Regions from separate parts of the Homo sapiens genome. Here region 2 is linked to region 1. Evidence: fine-mapped expression QTL. Tissue or cell type: blood mononuclear cells. Region 1 holds a variant in brackets; the other region holds the start of a gene. All regions are shown on one strand. Distances are between the middles of the regions.

Region 1 (10,897 bases):
CTGTAATCCCAGCACTTTGGGAGGCCAAGGTGGGTGGATCACCTGAGGTCGGGAGTTCGAGACCAGGCTGACCAACATGGAGAAACTCCGTCTCTACTAAAAATACAAAAGTAGCCAGGTGCGGTGGGGAGCGCCTGTAATCCCAGCTACTCCGGAGGCTGAGGCAGGAGAATCACTTGAACCTGGGAGGCAGAGGTTGCGGTGAGCCGAGATCGCACCATTGCACTCCAGCCTGGGCAACGAGAGTGAAACTCCTTCTCAAAAAAAAAAACAAAAAAACAAAAGTAGAAACAACCTAAGTGTCTATCAACTGATAGACGGATCAACAAAATGTGGTATGTCCATATAATGAAACATTATTTAACAATAAAAATGAATGAAATATTAATATATGCTGTGATATGAATGAACCTTGAAAACATGCAAAATGAAAGAAGCTAGTCACAAAAGACCATACATATTATATGAAATGTCCAGATTAGACAAATCTACAGGGACAGAAAGTAGATTAGTGGTTGCCTGGGACTGAGGAGGTTGAGGGAGTATAGGGTGTGAATGCTAATGGATACGGGGTTTCTTTTTGGGGTGATGAAAATGTTCTGAAATTGATTGTGGTAATGGTTGCACAACTGTGTGAATATATTAAAAATAATTGAATTGTACATTTTTAATGGATGAACTGTATAGTATGTGAACTATATCTCATTAAACCTATTATAAGAATTATTAGCAATAATCAGTTGAAAATTTTATTGAGTAGTTTTTGCTGATTTTCTTGCATTTAAAATTTTTACTTAATGCCAGCTATGCACATTATAGTTGCAACCACTCATTTTGAGCAGAATCTACAGACTTGTTTGGGATTGTGGGTCTCCAAGAATAGGGACGGCCTTCTCCGTAGTAGGCAAATTCCCTCTATATTACTTAATTTATAAATTTGAGCTACTAGGCAAAGGCAGTAGTTGTTCAGGAGCAAGTTCTAAGCCTGTGCACATAAAAGCTATCAGTTCTATTTTCGCTTCTCCTTGTCTTTGCATACCCTATCTCCTCTGCCCTTGTCATCTTATTCCACCTGGTAATGAAAATAAATGAGCGAGAGTAGTCAGAAAAGTAAAAGAATAACTAAGAGATGTAGCATCACTACAGGCAATGAAACAGAATGTTTCAAGAAACCAGGGTAATGATGGTCATTAGTGACCTCTTGAACAGAGAGGTTGAATACAATGAGAACTAAAAAGGGAACACAGAATCGGCAACTTAAAGGCCTTTAGGGTCCTTTGAGAGAGATTTTAGTTGGGTAGTGAAGATAAAAGATTTTTATGTTCACAAACATTTAGCTACAGGCCCATCTATTAAATTTAAGTTTGCCTAAGATTCCATTGGTGACCTCTTCTCTTTTCTTTCAACACTCTTGACTTGTCTTCAAGTTCCAGGGCTACAATCATCATCTTTCCCTTTCTATTTCATTAATTCAGACTGTATTCTTCCTAAATGAATTCACTCCTTCCCTCTAATCTACTCTCTAATGTGGTGCCACTTTATTTTCTAAAGCAAATATCTAATTGTGTTATATCCTTGTTCATGAACCTCAGTTTAATGTGGCTAAGAAAGCCCAAACTTACCAGCAAGACCTTCTGGGTTCTGAAAAGATGTTCCAGCCAGACTCTCACCCCATCTCTATTATAACTGCATTGTTCTGTTCTACTCATATCCCTAGATGAGCCTTGCATTTTATACCAATGAACTTCCTCAAAAGGCTACTGTACCCTCCGCTTGGAATGCCTCTTGCCTGCATTTTCTGTCAATACCCCTTTTGTTCTTTAAGACCCAAGGATCATCTCTCATGTGAAACTCTTGCTCCTAGTTAGAATTATTTACTTCGTCTGCGCTATTCTAGTGCTTATACTTTTCAGCCTTAAATTATTATTATTTATGTCCATGTCTATTCTAATACTTCTTTCTAAATCCCATGAAAGCAAATGTCTCATTCCAGGCATTGTTTTCCCTAGGCATTTGCTGTGGCACCATTCACAGTAAATACCTAGTAAGTTTTTGAATGAATCAATGAAATCAATCTCATCTGATTCTCTAAATCTTTCATATGTGTAAGTTTGGTATTACCCCAGAAGCTGATAAGTTTCTTGTGGATGAATATAATGTCTTCTGTTTGATTTGCACTCTCTTAGCCCCAACCCCAGTTCTGGTATAGTCCTGAGCATGTAATGATCATGCACTGTGGAACAGATTGTTCATTTCTGTTAGAGGATGGCTGGGTACTCTCTATTCCTTCTCCTTGTAGGGAGAAGAATGCATACAAATGAGAATTGTGGATTTAATTCAGGGAAGGGTGGCAAGTAGGATCATGGGAAGAAATACAATTCATGTGTCCCTGGGCATTTAAGCCTGGACTAAGAAGCAGACCATGACTGTTTGTCAAAATGGAAATTGATTTTCGAATCAAAGAAATGAGCCAGACATTAAAAAAATTACCCAAAGGCATGAACTTGAAAATGCCAAAGCTCTTTGCTTTTGCTGAATTGCCAGACCCCAGAAATTCCCTTCCCCTCAGAACTTTGAAAGTTCTGATCAGGGCATCTACTATCAAACAGAAATTTGTCCTCAGTGGTAGGAATCAACTGAGAGAAAGTAGCTAACTAATGAGCACAGTATTATTAAAATCTAACTGAGGGAGCCATTGCACATTAACATTTCCTTGTTGCTGTGGTTTGAATGTGTCTCCTCCAAAATTCAGGTGCTGGCTTTGTGATAGTATTAAGAGGTGGGTTCTTTAAGAGGTCGTTAGGTCATGAGAGCCTCTCCGTGGTGAATGGGATTAAGGATTAAGTACTGGATAAACAGGCTTGAAGGAGAGGCAGTTAGTCTCTTCTTGCCTTTTGGCCTTCCACTGTGTGAAGACACAGCATTCCTCTCCTCTGAAGGAGCCATCTTGGAAGTAGAGAGCAGCCCTCACCAGACAACTGAACCTGCTGGAGGCTTGATCTTGGAATTCTCAGCCGTCAGAACTGTGAGAAAGTACATTTCTGTTCTTTATAAATTACCCAGTCTTAGGTCATCTGATAGAGCAGTGCAAAATGGAGTAAGACACTTATGTAGCACTCATACTGCTAATTATCAATAGGTGTACCACAGCTATCTTCCTCCAATGGACTGACTGACTGTATACCCAGCAACTAGTACAGTGTCTGGCCCAGGGAGCTGACATTTATCAATTGTTCGCTATATACCAAATACTAGACATGAATTAACTCATTTATTCCCCACAATAACCTTTCTAACCATTTAAGGTGTGATCTCCCAGGGACCACACCTTCTCCAGCCCTTTGAACTAAAGGGTGGCATTTGAACATAGACTAACAATCTGATAAGCTAGTTGCTGGGGCTGTGTTTATCTGTGCCCTGACTGTGTCACATGGGTGGAGTTGCCTGGAGAAATATCTGGTTAATTGCAAGGTGCTTTTTATAAAAACTCAACCAAAGAAAAAAGAAAGCCAGGAGGAGGGAGAAGGTGATGACTTGGGGCCACCAGTTAACAATCCTTAAGACTGCCTTAATTCTCGGACACAAAATTGACATCTTCTTGGCTGCCACTGTGTCCAGCAGAGGGCAACCTTATCCCCATTCTTTGTCAAATGCCGTAGGACAGTTTGAAAGCGTAGCTTAAACATAAGAAGGAGGTGCCAAGAACAAGAATAAAACAGCCAACTCGGTCAGTATGCCTTCAGTGACTTTTTCTTGGAGATACCTCTCTTTACCTTGAATCTGTGCCCCATCTTGACCTGCTACTTGGCTCTGGCCTGGTTCACTTGGCCCTTCTAACTTCATGTCATTTGTTTAGCACTTTTACATCTCTCTCTCTTTTTCCTCCTCCCAGACTGATTCTGCCTTTTGTCTATAGTATAGTCTCCTTTCCTCTGTTCCTCCTCACTGTGGCTCTCCACTTGTCCCCAGACAAGCAGGGCTTGAGGATCTAGAATTTTTGTTACCACATCTCCTTCCCTAAGAACATAGTCAGTTAGTCTGGGCTTTTCAAACTATTTCATATTGACCAAGGGCTTAGAGATAGAGGGTAAAGAGGTTCCTGGTTGACAGGTTTCACTGAGGCTGCAACCCTGGGGCATTACAGGGTTACATATTGCAGCTCTCTGCCTTACTGGGGGTCTCTGATCCTGGGCCTTGTTTTTGCATAGGGACTTTCTCCAGCCACACTGGTGCACACGTCTTAACTCTAGAGGTAGATTCTGTCCCATTTGCTCAGAGATGTGATATTTTGGCTTCAAACCACCACCCTATATGTTTTCTTTTGTCACCTTCTTTACTTTCTTTGAGTCTTCTCTGGGTGAGAAAAGTAGATGTTCTTTATCCCCAAGTTTCCTGCCCAGTGTCAGGCTTCAGGAAATGCAATGTTCTTCCCTTTCCATTTCCGTCCTACCTTCACTTGAGCTTACTGTGGACCTTTGGTGCTGACAGCTTTGTCTAAAGATCAGGCTCACTTGTTTATCTTTCCAACCTTGCCCCAGGATCTCTGGCAAGATGGCAGCTGCCCTGTCGTCCAGTAGCCATGTGGTCTCTTGCTTTTTACACAGACTCTATTCCCGTTACTCATTTCAAAGGGAGACTCAGCTTCCTGTTCAAAAGCTCTCCATCCTACCTTCTTGGGGATTTTTGTCTTTTAGCAAATACTGACTATTCTCCTCTGATTGATAACCATAGACCTGCCTAACTGAGTAATGCACTCCCAGTTCTCATTTACCTGTTTCAGGGGAGGACCCCACTTCCCCACCCCAAATGTGAAGTTAGCATGCAATTTCAGTTCTCACCAGTGAGACTTTGCAACAGCATCAAATGTGATATTCAGACTTCAGGAAAACTGAAATGCAGTTAAATATTCCACCAAACAGGGGGGTGATGTTTCACAGAAATACCATACACAGCATCAAGTTTCTCATTCTGCCTTCTTTTGAGGCATTAGTCATTTTGAGAAAATGCCTGTTTGTCATAGTCTTGTCTTGCAGAATGGAAATTTTCTTCCAAGGCAGAATACTGTGTGCTCTGATATTTAACCTATAATTAGTGTATCCTCTGGAGGATTTTCTCCCCTTGATTTAGAGGCCTCTTTGTCAGTCAGCCTTCTGTTTGACGATGATAGCAACCACAGGGCAGCACAGTGAATCACACGGCAGGGAAATGCTTGCTCAGATCCAAAATGTTTAGATCTTCTGTAGCAATGGGAACACATAACAATTCAAGTAGCAGGCCTGCAAGAAAATAGCAGGAAGTATAAAAGACAGAATATTTATAAAGAAATGAGAAGAGTCATAAATCCTGAGTTTTGATCTAGTTTTGCCCCAATGTATGGAATACATTGCTCACCCTCATGCTTTTCTTACCCAGTTTACTAGTATTTTTAGTTTTTGCCTTTTCAGCTGCTCTATATCAAGTGTTTTATTCATTGGTAAACAACAGTCAGAGGCTCTTGACAAATAGCTCCCCCTTGCAGGCATCC[G/A]GTTTTTTGGTTATGAAATGGCAGTTTACAGGCACAGAGTAGCTGTGTCACGACAGCATTATTGTCTTGGAGCAGAGAGTGCACAGACACCACCAGCTTGAGAGCCCGACCTTGTTTCTTGCTAAGAAATGTCCCGTTTTTGCCTGTTTTTGGCAGAAGCCAGACTGGGAGATTGCTGCAAATGGCTGCAACAACCTGTGTTTAATGTGGTGACACTAATAGATTCTGAGAATTAATCTTCAGCCAAGAAAGCATGATGGAAGGTACTAGAATTTCAAATTAGATAGTGGATTGATTTCCTTCAAGGCTGAAATTTGCTTCCTTTATCTTCTGGTGGACTTTTCTATCATATTCAAAACCACCCATCATGGCCTTATTTCCAGAGTCTCTTGCATATATCTCATGGTATAAATAAATTGTTATTCTGTTGTTTTGTCTGTTAGCACAGAGAAAGCATATCTAAATCCTAATTTTTTAAAAAAGATTAAAAAATCCAGGAATGAATGAAAGAAAGAATTACTTATGATTTGGGGAAAAGTAGTGTATCTAAATCTAGTCCTTGCTACTTGTTTTCTAGAATAAAGGACTCTGGAAAGAACTGAGCTCAGGAAAATATCTCCCCAGGTTGAAACACTGTCTTTTGCAGAAACAATAGCCCTCCAGAGTGTCTGAGATGTGGCAATTATTAAGAGTTCTTACAGTGTCCCCTCAGTCCACTGAGTTGAGGACTCTGGTGTCCATTCTAAAATCATGCGACTAATTGCTTACAACAGAACTTCCAAGGATATCATTTGTGGGGCCCAAACAAACAAACAAAAAGGTCTCTGTGGCTAAGTAAGCTTGGAAACGTGGGCTCAAATAGAATTAAACTTTTTTTTAACCCTAGCTCTTGTAAGAACCTTTAATAGGCTTGTGTGCATTACAAAACTCCAAACTTACTTGGTTTAGAGAATCACCAATGTTTTCCAAACTCTTTTGACTAGGAAACTAGCTTCTTTTTTTGATGGAATGCTTTATGTGTCTAGTGCTTCCCCTAATTCACCTCATGTTGGCTGGCCCCCAATCCCATACAGAGTTTAACATTTTATGCATCCTTTTGTAAAAACTGCTCAGTCCCTGGCTGGGGGAAGATAGTCTTCTTTTGGAATTTGCAATTCCTGGTTTAATAAGCAATACCTGAAATGAATACGTTTCTTAGAACTCCTTTAGTTCTACTTGTTTGTTCTCCAAATCAGGTTAAAGGATTCTATCTTGCTTTATAAAAGGACATGGAGGCTATCAGGAGTTTTAGGAATCCCAGCTGTCAGTTTCATCTTCATCCACTAAATCTCTGCTGACCAGGGATAGAAATGACAAGCCGACAAACTTAAACAGTAAGAATTCTGGGCACCAAACTACAAAGTCTTAAGCAACAACAATTATACCTTAGTTAAAGTTGGTAAAGGGACTAAAGGCAGTAACTGTTGTTAGGCATTCAAAAGAAGCAGCTTAGGAGGTGAAGGTCAGTGTTCTGGTGGCCTCCTGACTTACTGGCTTTGCAGCTTGTCTAGTCTGCTTCTTGCATTGCCGGTCTGGCTCCCCAGTATGACTTCTGCCTTTACTCCCCCAGTTTAGTTCAATTTAGTTCCAAAACTTCCCCCAAGACTTACCTAGCTCAATTCTTACCAGCTCCAGGAAGTCTTCCCTGACTACAGTTCTTCCCTCTGGCCGCGAAGTATTGTTTCGTACGTTGTACCTTTGTCATTTTTAACAACACGGAACAAAGCAGGAAGGGTCCTCCTGTGGGAGTTGAGGAATTGACCTCATCATTGCCAGGACTTGATCCCATTTCCTCACCTCTTAAAAGAGGGGCTAGAATCGAAAATCTCAGTCCCTGTGGCTCTGAAACCCTATGCTTTTGTGCTATTATTTCTTATCCTAAAGATAGAAGCAAACATATGGCTTTTGCTGTTTCTTGTGCTTCTCTTGTCCTTCTGTCTTTCCAATTAGATTGTAGATCCTTGAGGAAAAGGGTCATAGCTTTTAATTAATTTATGTATTGTGGCTAGTTCTAGTGCTGAGTAATAAATGTTTGCTGAGTAAACGATATGATGCTATGCCCTCATATCCAGTAACGCAGGACTTTCTATCTGCTCTTAAGGCATAACTTTCCTCTATTTATCTGTAAAATAATAGTTCCATTTCAGACTGGCTCTTTGCTCCCCATGAGAAAAAAATATAGAGAGGAGTATTTTAGAATAAAGCTATACCTTCAAGTTCTTCATGCCCTTTCCCTAAAAATCCTCCAATGCAGTTGGAGAGTCACAACTCTGCTTAGCCTTCTTCCTCTTTACACTCAGGTTCAGTTGTGCTGATCCTGTGGTATGATGGTATATGGTAGACACACCCGACAGCAATAATTTAACTTGAGCATACCCTGAGGATGATCCTGTATGGCAGTTGCACCTGAATATGTGTTTGGAGTTCAGAGCGTGCCCAACCCAGAGATAAATTCCTTGTCTGTGAGGAACATCTGAGCTCTGGGCCCTTCCTGTGGAACATCAGCATACAGGGGAGTGAGGCTCTTTGTTTTGCGTTAAATGAAGGTTGCCAGGTGGAGGTTGTTAGGAGGAGGGAGTGAAGTGAAAATGCTATATAAACTGCATGCTTTTTGCATGCAGTGGTGGTTCTTCTGTCCAGCACATGGCTACTGCATCATCCCTGTATGTAAGTTTCTCCTAATAAAACCCTATATCTCATTTGTTGGCTCTGGGTCTCTCCTTCAGCCTCTTGAACTTGGTGCCATCCCTACTGAAGTTAATAGGGGTTTATCACGCAGACATTCAACCCACTTCAGTCTTTCTTTCTTACTTGGAGAACTAAGAAAGCACTTTTTTTTGTTTGTTTTTTGTTTTTGTTTTTTTGAGACAGGGTCTCACTCTGTTGCCAGACTGGAGTGTAGTGGTGGGATCATAGCTCACTGCAATCTCAAACTCCTGGGCTCAAGTGATCCTCCTGCCTCAGCCTCCCAAGTAGCTGGGACTACAGGTGTGCTCTGCTAATTTTTAAATTATTTTTAGTAGAGATGAGGTCTCACTATGTTGCTCAGGCTTCTCTTGAACTCCTGGGCTCAAGAAATCCTCCTATCTGGGCTCCCAAAGTGTTGGGATTATGGGCATGAGCCACCACGCCTGGCCAACAGATCTTCTTGATCATTGCTTCCAGAAAGTAGAATGCCTACTATCTTCATTTTTTGGATCTTCAAGAAATAACAGATTTACTCGTTAGTTTCTTCTTTGTCTAATTCTCTGACTTCATTATTCATTCATTTCTTTTATTCCTCCATAATCTAGAGAGGGACCCTCTCTAACATATCAAATGATCTTGCGACCGTGTTGGAAGCCTTGCTTCTCCAGTGGATGCTAACATTGTGAAACAAGCTATACCACCTTTAATTGTGGTCCCTAGACTCCAGTGGAGGCATCTTTTCATAAGGCTGGATGGAGTATGGGTTTCCTAGTCTTTCTCAATCCCTGTTCAAGGAGCTTTACTTACTGAAGTACCCAAAGGACCTTGTTTTCAGGCCTCACCTGGAACACTGCCCTGAGGTACCTATATTAAGGAGGAAGGTAGAGAGGCAGCTCCAGCTCACTTTCCCCTTCACATGCTATGAATTTTTTGTGAATTGCCTCCTTCCACCTTCAGTCTCTGCCCCTGTGTTTACTAATTTGAAGTGTTGCCACTAGTCAACAGGCTATTGAGGGACCCCTGGTCCTTTTGTTCATTCTTTCTTTTCAATGAGCATTTCCTGGTAGTCAGATGACGCTTCAACAATTAACACAGGAAGAAAGCCAAAACAAAAATGTGGGGAGGGTGACGGATGGGTGGGATGAATATTATGTGAGGAAACAAGAAATTTCTCTCCCCATGTTTGGGAAATACTTCAATACTGATATGCCTATTTGGTGATGAGAAACAGACATAATGTGACTTATTAAGAAATCAGTAAGCAGGCTTAGCTTCAGATCCAGCAGTTCCTGGACTCCCATCCTACCCGTTCCCTCTGAGGTTCCTGGGGGTGTGCACAACTACCGGGTGCATCTTCAGTAGGAACTCTCAGAGGACATAGGGGCTATGTTTATCTTAGGAGTTTTTATACACTATTCCTAATGCTAGGAGGACTGGGCCATACACCTATGTTACTGACAGTATAACTACCTCTTGGGTTCCCTCTTTTTTCAGGAAACATGGTTATTAGCATTTTTGCATAATATCTAAGCATATTAACTTTGATAGTTACATATAGAGATGAATATACAAGGAATCAAGGGAAGATTGCTGATGTAAAGACATGAACACAGTCTTCTTAAAGCATATGCACTGATTTTTTATTTTTCACAGAAAAATAATAGATTATACAAAAAGCCCTGAACCTATAAAAGTCAAATGATGTATTTCTTCCCATGGCAAGGCAGAGGTGGTATTTATAGTCCTGCAAGCAGCTGAATGGAGATAATTTAGGTTCCGTTGGCTTTTCTGGCTGAAAGCTCCAGTTCCAATAGATAGGGAATCCCCTGAATCAATTATAAAATGGAGTAACTGGGAGATTTACCGAATATCTTTTCAGGACTAGAAGGTAAGGGATATGAAAGTGTTTTGAACTGAAAACTGCAGAAACCAAAGCTTTTTTGTAAATTTAACTTTTGAGGATTGTTTCAAGAACTCTGCTTAAGTGTTTTGAAAAGATGTTCAAGGTGAGGCTGAAGTTTTTTAACATTTGTCAGTGAATTTCATTAAAAATACGTTGTATGTTAGATGCTGCTGGCATTCCACTGTTGAGAAAACTAAAGACGTTTATTTCATGGATTGGGCAGAATGGCATCCATTTATCCTAAGCCTCCAATGTGGGCTTAAGGACAAGTGGCTTAAAAGGGTAGATGTTAAAATTTCTTCCTCTCGCCAAGGGCAGGTACGCAGAATAGAAATGTGATGGCAGTTGGAGGGATATTCGTCAGATTCAATTTCACTAGAAATTTCCCTGTATCCAAATCATCTTGAATAACACAGAAGGTGCAGCAAAATGTACTGAATCATTGCTTTGAAAAGGATTTTGAATCTAAAACAGAAAGTAGTTATGCCGGTATGATTTTAACCAATTAACCACAGAAGAGTTTAAATGCAACCCAATTTTTATCATTTCGAATGGACTTTTTGTTCCCTGTTTGTATAATTCTATTCCAATTCATCTGAATTATATTGTACTCACTTCCTGTTCTGTGGTTTTTCTGGTTCTTCAGAAGACATTAGAAATCAAGCGCCAGCGTTTCTGTGAAGGTTTCTTTATGATTAGTTTTTTTCCTTTTAACACCTAGATGCCTTTTCCCTGCCGGTAAA
Region 2 (10,897 bases), 190 kb before region 1:
AAGAATCAAGATTATAGTTAAATGATGTTAAAACCTACTAAAAAATGATGTAATATTTTTAAAAATACCAAATATCAAACAATAGGTAGTCAACACTGGTTAAAAAAAAATGCACACCCACCCATAGACACTCTTGCACCTACCCACATGCATTTTTTTTTTAAGTCTGAAGGAAAGACAACAAAATGTTGAAAGTGATTAGTTTTTGGGTAGGATTAGGGGTGATTTTATTTGATTTGTATCCTGTATTTTCCAACATCTCACCTACAAACATGTACTACTTTATAATCACAGAAAAAGACACAACACATTCTTGAATTTAAAAAGAATGTAAAAATTAAAATAGTAGCCAATATTTTCTGAAGAGTGTTAATTTTGACAGAAAAAAAAATTCCTGAATTGTTTATTATACTTGTATGGTCTCTAAGTTATCCATAGTTTGCCAAGCCTGTTGGCTTACGGTAGAACCAAACCCAGACATTACTTCCCCCTCATGGCAGCTACCCAAATTTCAGGACTAGTGTCTAAGAATGTGAAAACAAACATCTGAGTTCTCTTCCAAATCAACTTTACACTCTGACTGAATTTTTTTTTTTTTTTTTTTGAGACAGGGTCTCCCTGTCATCCAGGCTGGAGTGCAGTGGTGAGATCATAGCTCACTACAGCCTTCTGGGTTCAAGAGATTCTCCCGCTTTAGCCTCCTGAGTATCTGGGACTACAAGCATATGCCACCACATGAGCTAATTTTTAAATTTGTAGAGATTGGCAGGGTAGTTCTCCCTATGTTGCTTAGGCTGGTCTTGAACTCCTGACATTAAGCAATCCTCCTCTCTTGGCCTCCCAAGGTACTGGGATTACAGGCATAAGCCACCATGCCTGGCTTTTGGATTGAATTTCTGGAGAGTCAAATAGTTGTCTAAACATAGCCAGGGCCTTCTGGAACAGTCTCTGGTGACACATGCGTAAATGCTATGGGCAGGTGTGTATGTTACCACCTATGTGGAGAGCTGGTTTCTCCTATATTTTTCTCAGCACTTGGACAAGAATTTTCTAGAGGACTGGACTTTTCCATTTGTGGGTAGAAGTAAACGCTGGAGGGTAACGAGCTATAGTAGAAGATGACCAGAACAGGAGTCTGATAATGGGGTTCTAGACCTGGCAAAATGAAGGCAGGAGCGCCAGACCTTCTTGCATTCCAGGATTTCTTTAAGAATTGGATGAGATAACACTTGCAAAAGTGTCATGAAAGCTATAAAATGTTAACCCTGCAAAGAGTGTTATTACTTTTTAATAATAAGCCAGCCTGGATTTTTCATAATCTGAGAGTTAAGAACCCTACTGATTGGACAATACTACTGTGGCCAATTCTTGTGAAGAGGAGCAGCCTCTTTTGCTTTGTGGAGTCATTTTTTTTCTCAGTCATAATCATAGATGGCAGGACCAGGATTTGTGTCCACCTATCACTGGCCTTACCCTGCATGATCCTCCTTGCTCCCTAACCTCTGGCCATGCCTCAGATCTCTTGGTTCCAGGAATATTTGCTTGCCGCGGTGCTATCTCCACTTTGGGCCTTCACACGGTGCTTCCCTCTGCCGAAAACATTCCCCCGTCCCCTGTCCCTTCAGCTCACTTCCTCAGCTGGCTTTCTGAAGCAGTGTTTCTCAAAGGGTGGTCCAGCATCACCTGGGAACTTGTTAGAGATGCATATTCTGTGGCTCTTCTCCACCACCAGGGTCAGAAACTCTGGATGTGGAGTCCAGCAGTCTGTTTTACCAAGCCCTCCAGAAGATTCTGATGAATACAAAAGTTCGAGAACCACCCCCCTAGAGCAATGATTCACAAACTTTTTTGCCTCTTTGGGAAGCTTAAAAACTGCTGGTGCTCAGAGCCATACTCCAGAATTTCCAGGGAGAGGTGGGACCAGGAATCCATATTTGTAAATCTCTTCAGGTGATTCCAATGTGCAACCAAGTTGGAGAATCACCTCAGAGGCCTGATTTCCTTTGTCATGGGCTCCTATAGCACCTTGCACTTCCCTTCTGTAACACTCATGCTCTGAGCCCCATAGGGATAAGGAGGCTACTTTATGTCACCAGGACCTGCCACACCATAGGCACCATGGAATGTTTTTGTTTGTTTTTTGTAGAAACAGTATCTCACTCTGTTGTCCAGGCTGGAGTGCAGTGGCAAGATCATAGCTCACTGCATGCTCGAACTCCTGGACTCAAGCCATCCTTCCACTTCAGCCTCCCAAGTCGCTGGGACTACAGTTGCACACCATCATGCCTGGATAATTTTTTTAATCTTTTAGTTTTGTAGAGATGGGTTCTCACTATATTGCCCAGGCTGGTCTTGAACTCCTGGGCTCAAGCAATCCTCCCACCTTGGCCTCCCAAAGCCACTGGATGTTGACAGAATGAATCACACTGTGCTTTGATTACAGGGTATGTTGGAAGGATTGATTTGAAAATACTAATACCAAAAAGATTTCCACATGACATTTTCCAAAATATGATTAGGAAAGTAGTATGGAAGATCATAGTAGTTTCACCGTATTCAGGATGAAGGAAGATTGAGCTTTATGGAGAGAGAAGTATGGAAGTGCAGGAACAATCCCCAGGGATCTCTGTGTGTACCGTGTGTGTGTGTGTGTGTGTGTGTGTGTGTGTGATAAAGCAGATCACACACAGGTGATCTCTGTGTGTGCCCAGTGTGTGTGTGTGATAAAGCAGGCGAACTCCAGATCCACAAATTTTTAAAATCTGAAACTGGACACATTGTTTGCCCTGTTTTTCAGGGCAGACTTAATACCCAGAGATTCTCCTTTTACCATTAGGATTTATTTGTTTTTTAAGTATTAGCTGATGACTTTGGTTAAGTTCTTATTTGACTTAGAATGTCATTTGGAATTGAGGGATAAAACCCATGAAATGAAAATGTGGATATTAAAATGGAGCAGAAAATGGATTATTTGGTGCTGCTAAAAATTCATCTGTTTAGAGTAAAACTTTTTTTTTTTTTTTTTTTTTGAGACGGAGTCCTGCTCTGTCACCCAGGTTGGAGTGCAGTGGGCACCATCTCAGCTCACTGCAACCTCTACCTTCTGTGTTCAAGCGATTCTCCTGCCTCTGCCTCCTGAGTAGCTGGGCTTACAGGCGCCCGCCACCACGCCCAGCTAATTTTTGTATTTTTAGTAGAGATGGGGTTTCACCATATTGGTCAGGCTGGTCTCCAACTCCTGACCTTAGGCGATTCACTCACCTGGGCCTCCCAAAGTGCTGGGATTACAGGCATGAGCCACCGCGTCTGGCCTGTTTAGAGTATAACTTAGTAGGATGTTCTTTGGAAAAATTATCCAGAAGACACTCAAAAGTTAGGTATTTTCTTTTTTTCCTTCTTTGCAATTTGTCAGCCATCAAGTGTAGTGTCTGGCACTCCATAAATGGATGAAGAAAACTAAGAGGTTTACTTGTGGTAATTCATTTTACAGTGTTATTAAATGCTTTGCTAGTTTGAAATGTTTCTGCTATAATAAATAATTTAAGACTTAAAGTCCTTTCTTTTCAATGTAGTTCCTTCTTAAGGTGTTTTTACTTGAAGGGTGTGCGTGTTTGCCCGTGCACACATGTGGGCATGTATGCTTATGAATGAAAATGATCATGAAATTATTGCTCTTTTAGTTCTTTGGAAAAATAAATCTTATGCATATATTTCTTAGGTATTTTAATTGCCTTTGTTATGTAAAGAAATCCCATTCATTCATCCATCCAGTAGGTCATTTCTTTCAACATTATATAGCCACATGCCAGGCCCTATGTTAGGCATGGGAGATATAATGGTGGACCTGATAGGCATGGTTCCTGTCCTCCTGTTGCTGTGTAGTGGTTTTAGCACTTGCGAAAGTCATCTATGAGATTCTTTTGCTTCCGGGTTCTTACATTTTTATTGTTGAGGTGGGGTCTCACTTTGTCCCCCAGGTGAGAGTGCAGTGGTGTGATCATAGCTCACTGCAGACTTGAACTCCAGGGCCCAAATGATCCTCCCACCTCAGCCTCCCAAGTAGCTGGGACTACAGGCATGTGCCAACATGCCCTGCTAATTTATTTATTTTTTGTAGAGACAGAGTTTTGCTATGGTGCCCAGGCTGGTCACTTCTGCGTTCCTGAGTCATTCCTGACTTGATGTGTGTGCGTATATTTTATTCTTGACATTAATTAGCATTTTTCTGCTACTCTTGGATGAACTTTCTAAACACGCTACCTTCCAACCTTATCAGTACATTCAAACCAAGTGGACATCCCAGAATAAGGTGGTGATTCTATAGCAACACAAATTAAATGTCCATTCCCCAAAATGTCTCATTGGAGAGAACAAATAATACACCACATAATTAATAGATTTAAAATCTTCATGGTACTTTAGCTTCATTAAAGATAGCAGCTCAAGCAAATTTAAAATTAATAGATTCTATCTAGTTCGCCTATTGTTATTTTTGAAGTCTGTTACAGAAGAGAAATTATGCAAATGGCTGTCAGGCTATTGCTGCTGCACTCACACTAGGAATGCATTATAATTTCTTTCTTAGAGGAAACACTTATTTGGAGCAGACCAGGCCCTCGGTTCGTTCGCAAGAGGTTGTCCCTTCCTTCAGATGGTCCATTTTGAGCTAATAAGTACTATCAGGGTTGAGGTGGAGAGGCGGGGCTGTGGGGAAGGAAATTAGGATAAATTACTGGGGCCCAGTGGCTGAAAGGGCCTCGGGCAAATCCCTGGTGAAGACAGTCTAGCCAGTCCTCCTCTGCTGGGGCATCTGGTATTTTTTTTCCCTTGGGCCTGGGCAGGCTGTCGGTCACCTTCCAGACTGTATAGCCTTTAACTCCTTGTTGCAATGGAATCCTGCTGGCCTTCTGATTTGCCTTTTCCTGCAAAAATCTGCCAAGACACTCTTTCTCAAAGAAAATTTCCTATGTTACTCTACTGTTTAAAAGCCTGGTGTGGCACCCTCTCACCTTTGAGGAAAAATTCCAGCCCCCCAGGCTGCCTGAAAGCTCTGCCTTCAACTGACTCTTGTATACAAATTCAACTTCATCTCTTGATTATTTTTATAATTCTTCTACTGGAACCAGGCTGATCTTTTTAACAACCTGTTAATTTTAATAACCTGTTCATTTATTTATTAATTTATTCTGCAAGCAGATGGGATGATAAGTTCAGTCCAACTGTAGGAATCCATGATTCTACTAGCTATAATATGAGCAATTATTATGTGCAAATACTGTAGGAAATATAGGAAGATAGAACACATTATCCCCATTCTTAAGATTCTTATGACAGTAAATGGAAACACAAAGGCCATTATTGACTAGCGGGAGTAAGATCGCTGTCCTTTAAATCACCTTCTTCATATTTGCATTCTCTGTGTGCTGTTTCTTGGCTCTGGGTTTCTCTCCTGCCTCATCTACACTAATCCTTTTCACTTCTTCATTCAAAACTGTACCTAGATTTATCTGCTCCAGGAAGCATTCCCACTCAAGTCTTGGTCCTGGGTTGAACTGACTCCTCCTCAGAATTGATGGATATAGCTTATCCAGTGTTATTGCACAGTCTTCAACTATTTCACATGGGCCTATGTGTCATGTTAGCTGGCCAGAAAAGAAGCTTTCTGGGGACCCTACCCTCCTGTTTCTCACTTCCCCTCTCTCCCTTTTTTTTTTTTTTTTTTTTTTTTGAGATGGAGTCTTACTTTGTTGCCCAGCCTGGAGTGCAGTGGCAGAATCTCTACTCACTGCAACCTCCGTTTCCCAGGTTCAAACAATTCTCCTGCCTCAGCATCCCTGGTAGCTGGGATTACAGGCGCACACCACCATACCCTGCTAATTTTTGTATTTTTAGTAGAGATGGGGTTTCCCCATGTTGGCCAGGCTGGTCTCGAACTCCTGACCTCAGGTGATCCACGAGCCTTGGCCTCCCAAAGTACTGGGATTACAGGCGTGATCCACCATGCCCAGCACCACCCCCCCACCCCCTGCCTCCTCTTAACCTACTGTTCTGTATATAGCCCAGGGCATGCTACTGAATGAATAGTCACTGTTGAATAGTCACTGTTTCATTGCTTGGTAATTCAGATCAGAAACTCATGGTGTTTCCCCTGGGTTTATCTGCAGTTCAGAAAAGTGACCCTGACTACATGCTTTGATTATGCCCTTTGCTCACAAAAAGATGATTAGTTTTGATTGTGCAGCATTTGGAATGAAGGAATTTAATCTGGAATGAAGGAACTTTAAAAGGTTGGGGGAATATCACATTGGAACTGTTAAATGACATGCAAACAGGATCTGTGAGAATGGTTTTGATTCTGCTCTGTGTCCTGGTAGGAGACACTAAATAGATCAGGCTCACTACCAATTAGCATCATCTTAATCTTGCCTAATAGTGAAGCAAAGTCACCAAGGATTTGGTGGATTTATCAGCTCCTCCCACAATAGTCATCTGAGGCTAACACCTCTTGGAACCTAGATCGAAAGTCCTTTGGTAATGATGTGTCATACATTCTAGTCATCAAAGACACCATTTTCTGGGCCTGAAGTGTTCTGCTGGTTTTTGGAGGAATGAGAATCCAATCTCTCATAAGCCGGATTCAGAAAATAGGTCATCGATGTGAGTTGCAGTTATTTTCCTTCCAGCTTTCTTCTGTGCTTGCTTTAGATTGTTTTTCTGCAAAGGGCAGATGCAGCTGCCCTGGCTGGTGGGCAGTGGAGGGGGATGACAGCCACTCTGGCTTTGGGCCTCTGTCTGACATCACCCAGATTCCTGGGTCCTCTCAGTTAGCATTTGCCTTTTGTCTGGGTGGTTAAATTTCTCTTGAAGGAGTAGGATAAACACCCTCTTGAGTATTGCTTTTTACACAGACACACACCACACACACACACACACACACACACACATACACACAGCATAGTTCATAGTCACTTGATTTGCCACCTGCAGTTTATAATAGAATGGACCTGTGGGATTATAAACCACTTTATTTCTGCACAGAATTTCTCAGCTTGAGGCCAAATTGAAGGGCATTAGTCATCAGTAATTTGCAGATGTTTTTAATGTTTTTCACCCAAGAGAGGTTTCAGGCAGCTAAAGCTAAGATAAATTTCCTCATGCTTTGGTGGGGAAATGAAAAATCTGATCATTTAGTTAATCATTTGTAAGAGCTGTGGGTATGTATTGTTCCTTAGTGACTGCAATATCATGACAGATTTGTTAATTTGGTAACATGACAATGTAAACAATAGTAGATAAATTCCATTATGCCATGATTCTTTTCTTCCTCTCAGTAATTTTGTATATTCAAGGTTTAAAATCCATAGAACATTAGAGATGGAACTTAGAGATCAACCTAGAGATCATTGGATTCCTCTACCAAGCTCTGTCAAATGCCAGTCCTGAGTGTCTCCCCTGGAGCATCAGGATAAATAGCTAATGCATGGGGGGCTTAATAGGTGCAGCCAACCCACCATAGCACATGTTTATCTGTGTAACAAACCTGCACGTCCTGCACATGTAACCTGGAACTTAAAATAAAATAAAATTTAAAGAAAGGAAAAGAGTACATAATCAGTGGAACCATAAAGGTCAGTTCTAGTGGGAAAATTAGGAAAGGCCTCCTAGAAGAGAAGACATTTGAGCTATACTTGAACAGGCCCTATCTAGCAGCATCCAGATAGGTGGTTTGTGAAGAAGCCAGTTCCTACTCTTACGTCTTTACCATGGTTATGGTTTGAATGTCCCCTCCAAAGATCATGTTGAAATTTAATTGCCATTGTGAGAAGAAATGGGACCTTTAAGAGGTGACTAGGTCATGAGGGCTCTGCCCTTATGAATGGATTAATGCTGTTATTGTGGGAGACGGCTCCTAGTAAAAGGATAGGTTCAGTCTCCTTTTTCTCTCTCTTGAGCTCTCACTCTCTTGCCCTGTCTCACTATGTGAGACCTTCCACCATGTTATGATGCAGCAAGAAGGCCCTCACCAGATGTGGCCCCTTGATCTTGGACTTCCCAGCCTCCAGAACCATGAGCCAAATAAACTTCTATTGTTTATAAATGATGCAGTCTGTGGTATTCTGTTACAGCAGCAGAAAATGGACTAACACAACTATTATGCACTTGCTTATGTATTGGTTTGGAATTATTCTCTAATTTACTCACGCTTGTATGGTATGTGTTTCCTTATTCTGTGTATCTCTGGGTGTTATATTTAATATTTGTACAGATTTCCTCTGACATTTCACAGTTCAGGTTTCCGATTTCTTCTTTCTAAAATCTATTCTCTAGATTTGAAAGCATTCTATGATTTGTGATTCATATATACCATACTATAACATCTAGAAAAAATATTCTGAATAGCATACTGAGCAATGGAAATCTTCATCATGAATTTTCTAATGAGTATAAAATGTTGCTGGGCAAGTTTCTATTTAAATCATGCTCGCTAGGCTTGACTAACTGCAGACATTCACAGGGTGCATGCTGCAGAGTGCTTTACTTTCAACAAGGTAAGGCTGTACCTCCGTTAGGGACTAATTCAGGGTATTCAACAAGGGATCAGACTAGACCAATTTGGGGTTGTTAAGGAACTAAAACTAGCTCACGAGAAACTCAAATCAGCTCATGAAAAGAGGGGCTGCTTGGAAGAATGCAGTAGGAAATTTCATGGGTTACAAGGACAGACAGCAAAGCTTAGCAGGCCTCAGAGGGCCAAGATGTAGAATTCACAGTGAACCCACTCACTAATCCTCTTTGTCTCACTCTCTCAAGCATGGTCCTTTCAGTTTCTTATTTCTCTGTTTTCTTTTTCTTCTCAGGATGAGCCTCTGTTTCATATGGTTTCTGCTATCCTCTGACTTCAGCACACATTTGGGTCATAATAGTCTCCTCTGTAGAGATCTCTTATATGTTTTTTTAAAAAATATTTATTTTAAAAAGTAGAATAACATATGCACTAGCAAAAAACATGACTAAAAATGTGTAATAATTTTAAAAAGCATATAAATTTCTCTCTTTTCCAAACTCTCTGATTTTTACCACCTCTCCCTAAAGTTTAAGAGTTTCCTGTGTAGCCTTCTGGAAAAATGTATATAAGGATATACACATACATAGAGACATACACACAAATATACACATAAAATGACTAGAAATGCAAATATTCTTTGTATTTACACAAAAATTGTCCTCTCTATACACTATTCAACACTTTTAAAACAAATCTTAATTGTATATTTGGCATTCTTTCCATATTAATTGGCAGAAAATTTACCTTTTTTCTTTTTGGTGGTTACCTGTGGCTACATTGTATTTAATTTTATGTAACTATTATGATTTATTAGATAATCTCTCCATGATGATGGGCCTCTAGGTTGTATCTGGTTTTCTACTGAAAATAATACTATAGTGAACAATCTTGTATGTCTATCTACTTCAAGTTTAATAGAGTTTTAGCTCTTACATCTGTTTAATGATTAAAGTTAATTTTTATATGTGGTGTAAGGATAAAGATTCTTTTTTTCTTTTTGCATATTGCTCTACAATTGTTTTAGCACTGTTGAAAAGTTTTCCTTTCTAGTATGTAGAAATATAATTGAATTTAAAATATTGACCTTGTTTGTATCCTGTAATTCTGATAAACTCACTAATTAGTTCTAGTAATGTTTTTATAAATTCCATCAGTTTTTTAAATAGATAATCATGTAATCTTCAAATTAAGCCCATTTTACTTCTTCCCTTCTAATCTGGATTTTTAAATTTTCTTTTTCTTGACTTATTATTCTGGCTTCACCACAGTATTCAATATAAATGATGAGAGCAGACATCCTTGGCTTCTGATCTTAAGGTGAAAGCATTCGGTTTTTCACCATTAAGTGTGGTGTTAACTTCAGGTTTTTCCTAGATTCCTGTATCAGATGAAGAAGTTCCTTTCACTTTCTAGTCTGTTGAGAGATTTTTGTTGTTGTTTTTAAATTTTGAATAAATGTTGAATTTTTTGTGAATGCTTTTTCTGCATCGATCGAGATGATGGTTTTTCTTTTATGTTCTGTTAATATAAATCTAAGTGTGCTTTTTTTGATTATATATGTAAAGTAAATGCCTACCAGTAGAATTACAGAGACAAAGGGAATGGGCATTTGGTAGATTTTGACTAATAATTCCTCACAAAGATTGTTTACGCTTTCGCTCATGTTGTCTCAGAGTGCTTATTTCTCTTAACACTATTATCAAACTTCTAAAAATCTTGACAGTGTGATAGGAGACAAATGGTATCTCATTAGTTTGATTTGCCGTTTAAAATTTACTAGTGAGATTTAGCATCTTTTATACATTTAAATTTTTTGAGTCTTTTTCTTTTTTATTGTATATACTCTTGATAGAAAATTAGCTCCTGATACAAACCTTCTTTTCTATTTATTTTTTGGAAAAATGTTAGTACTTACAACAATTCTTTTGGTTGTAGAGACCTTTTTACTTGTATGCAATTATGTTTATCAATTTTTTTCTTAGGGCTTGTGAGTTTTCTATTCTACTTGAAAATATTTCTTGCCTACACCAAGACTATAATGTATTTAGCTATATTTTTTTAAAAAATTTTGAGCCACCATACTCTATTTTGGAGAAAGGAATGAGGTAGCAATCTGGCTTAACTTTTTTTCTGAACAGCCAGCAAGTTAAGCCAGCATAATTTATTGAACAGTATTATTTAGTCCATCTTTTGCCTATTGATTTGTAATGTGATTTTTATCATAAACCCTATTTCTTTGTGTATTTGAGTCTACTTTTGGTTTCTAGTCTAACGATCTGACTACTTATTTCTACCCCTGTGGCATAATGTTTTAATTACTCTAGCAGTATA

Evidence for each region. PIP is the estimated chance that this variant, and not a neighbour inherited with it, causes the effect.
Region 2: MYO3B starts here. The variant in region 1 is fine-mapped to the expression of MYO3B in blood mononuclear cells (TOPMed, PIP 0.98).

Annotation. Positions count from the first base shown.
Region 1 is chr2:170,357,893-170,368,789 of GRCh38, forward strand. The region is part of intron 8 of MYO3B (myosin IIIB); the gene reads left to right. Among named protein-coding and RNA genes, the nearest start is that of MYO3B-AS1, 12 kb to the left of the region's middle. RefSeq lists an enhancer at 5,007-5,301. The variant G/A (reference allele first, on the strand shown) is at 5,525.
Region 2 is chr2:170,171,633-170,182,529 of GRCh38, forward strand. It overlaps MYO3B (myosin IIIB), which reads left to right and starts at 6,515. Exons shown (of 35, transcript NM_138995.5): 1 at 6,515-6,657. The coding sequence starts at 6,656. RefSeq lists an enhancer at 8,697-8,926.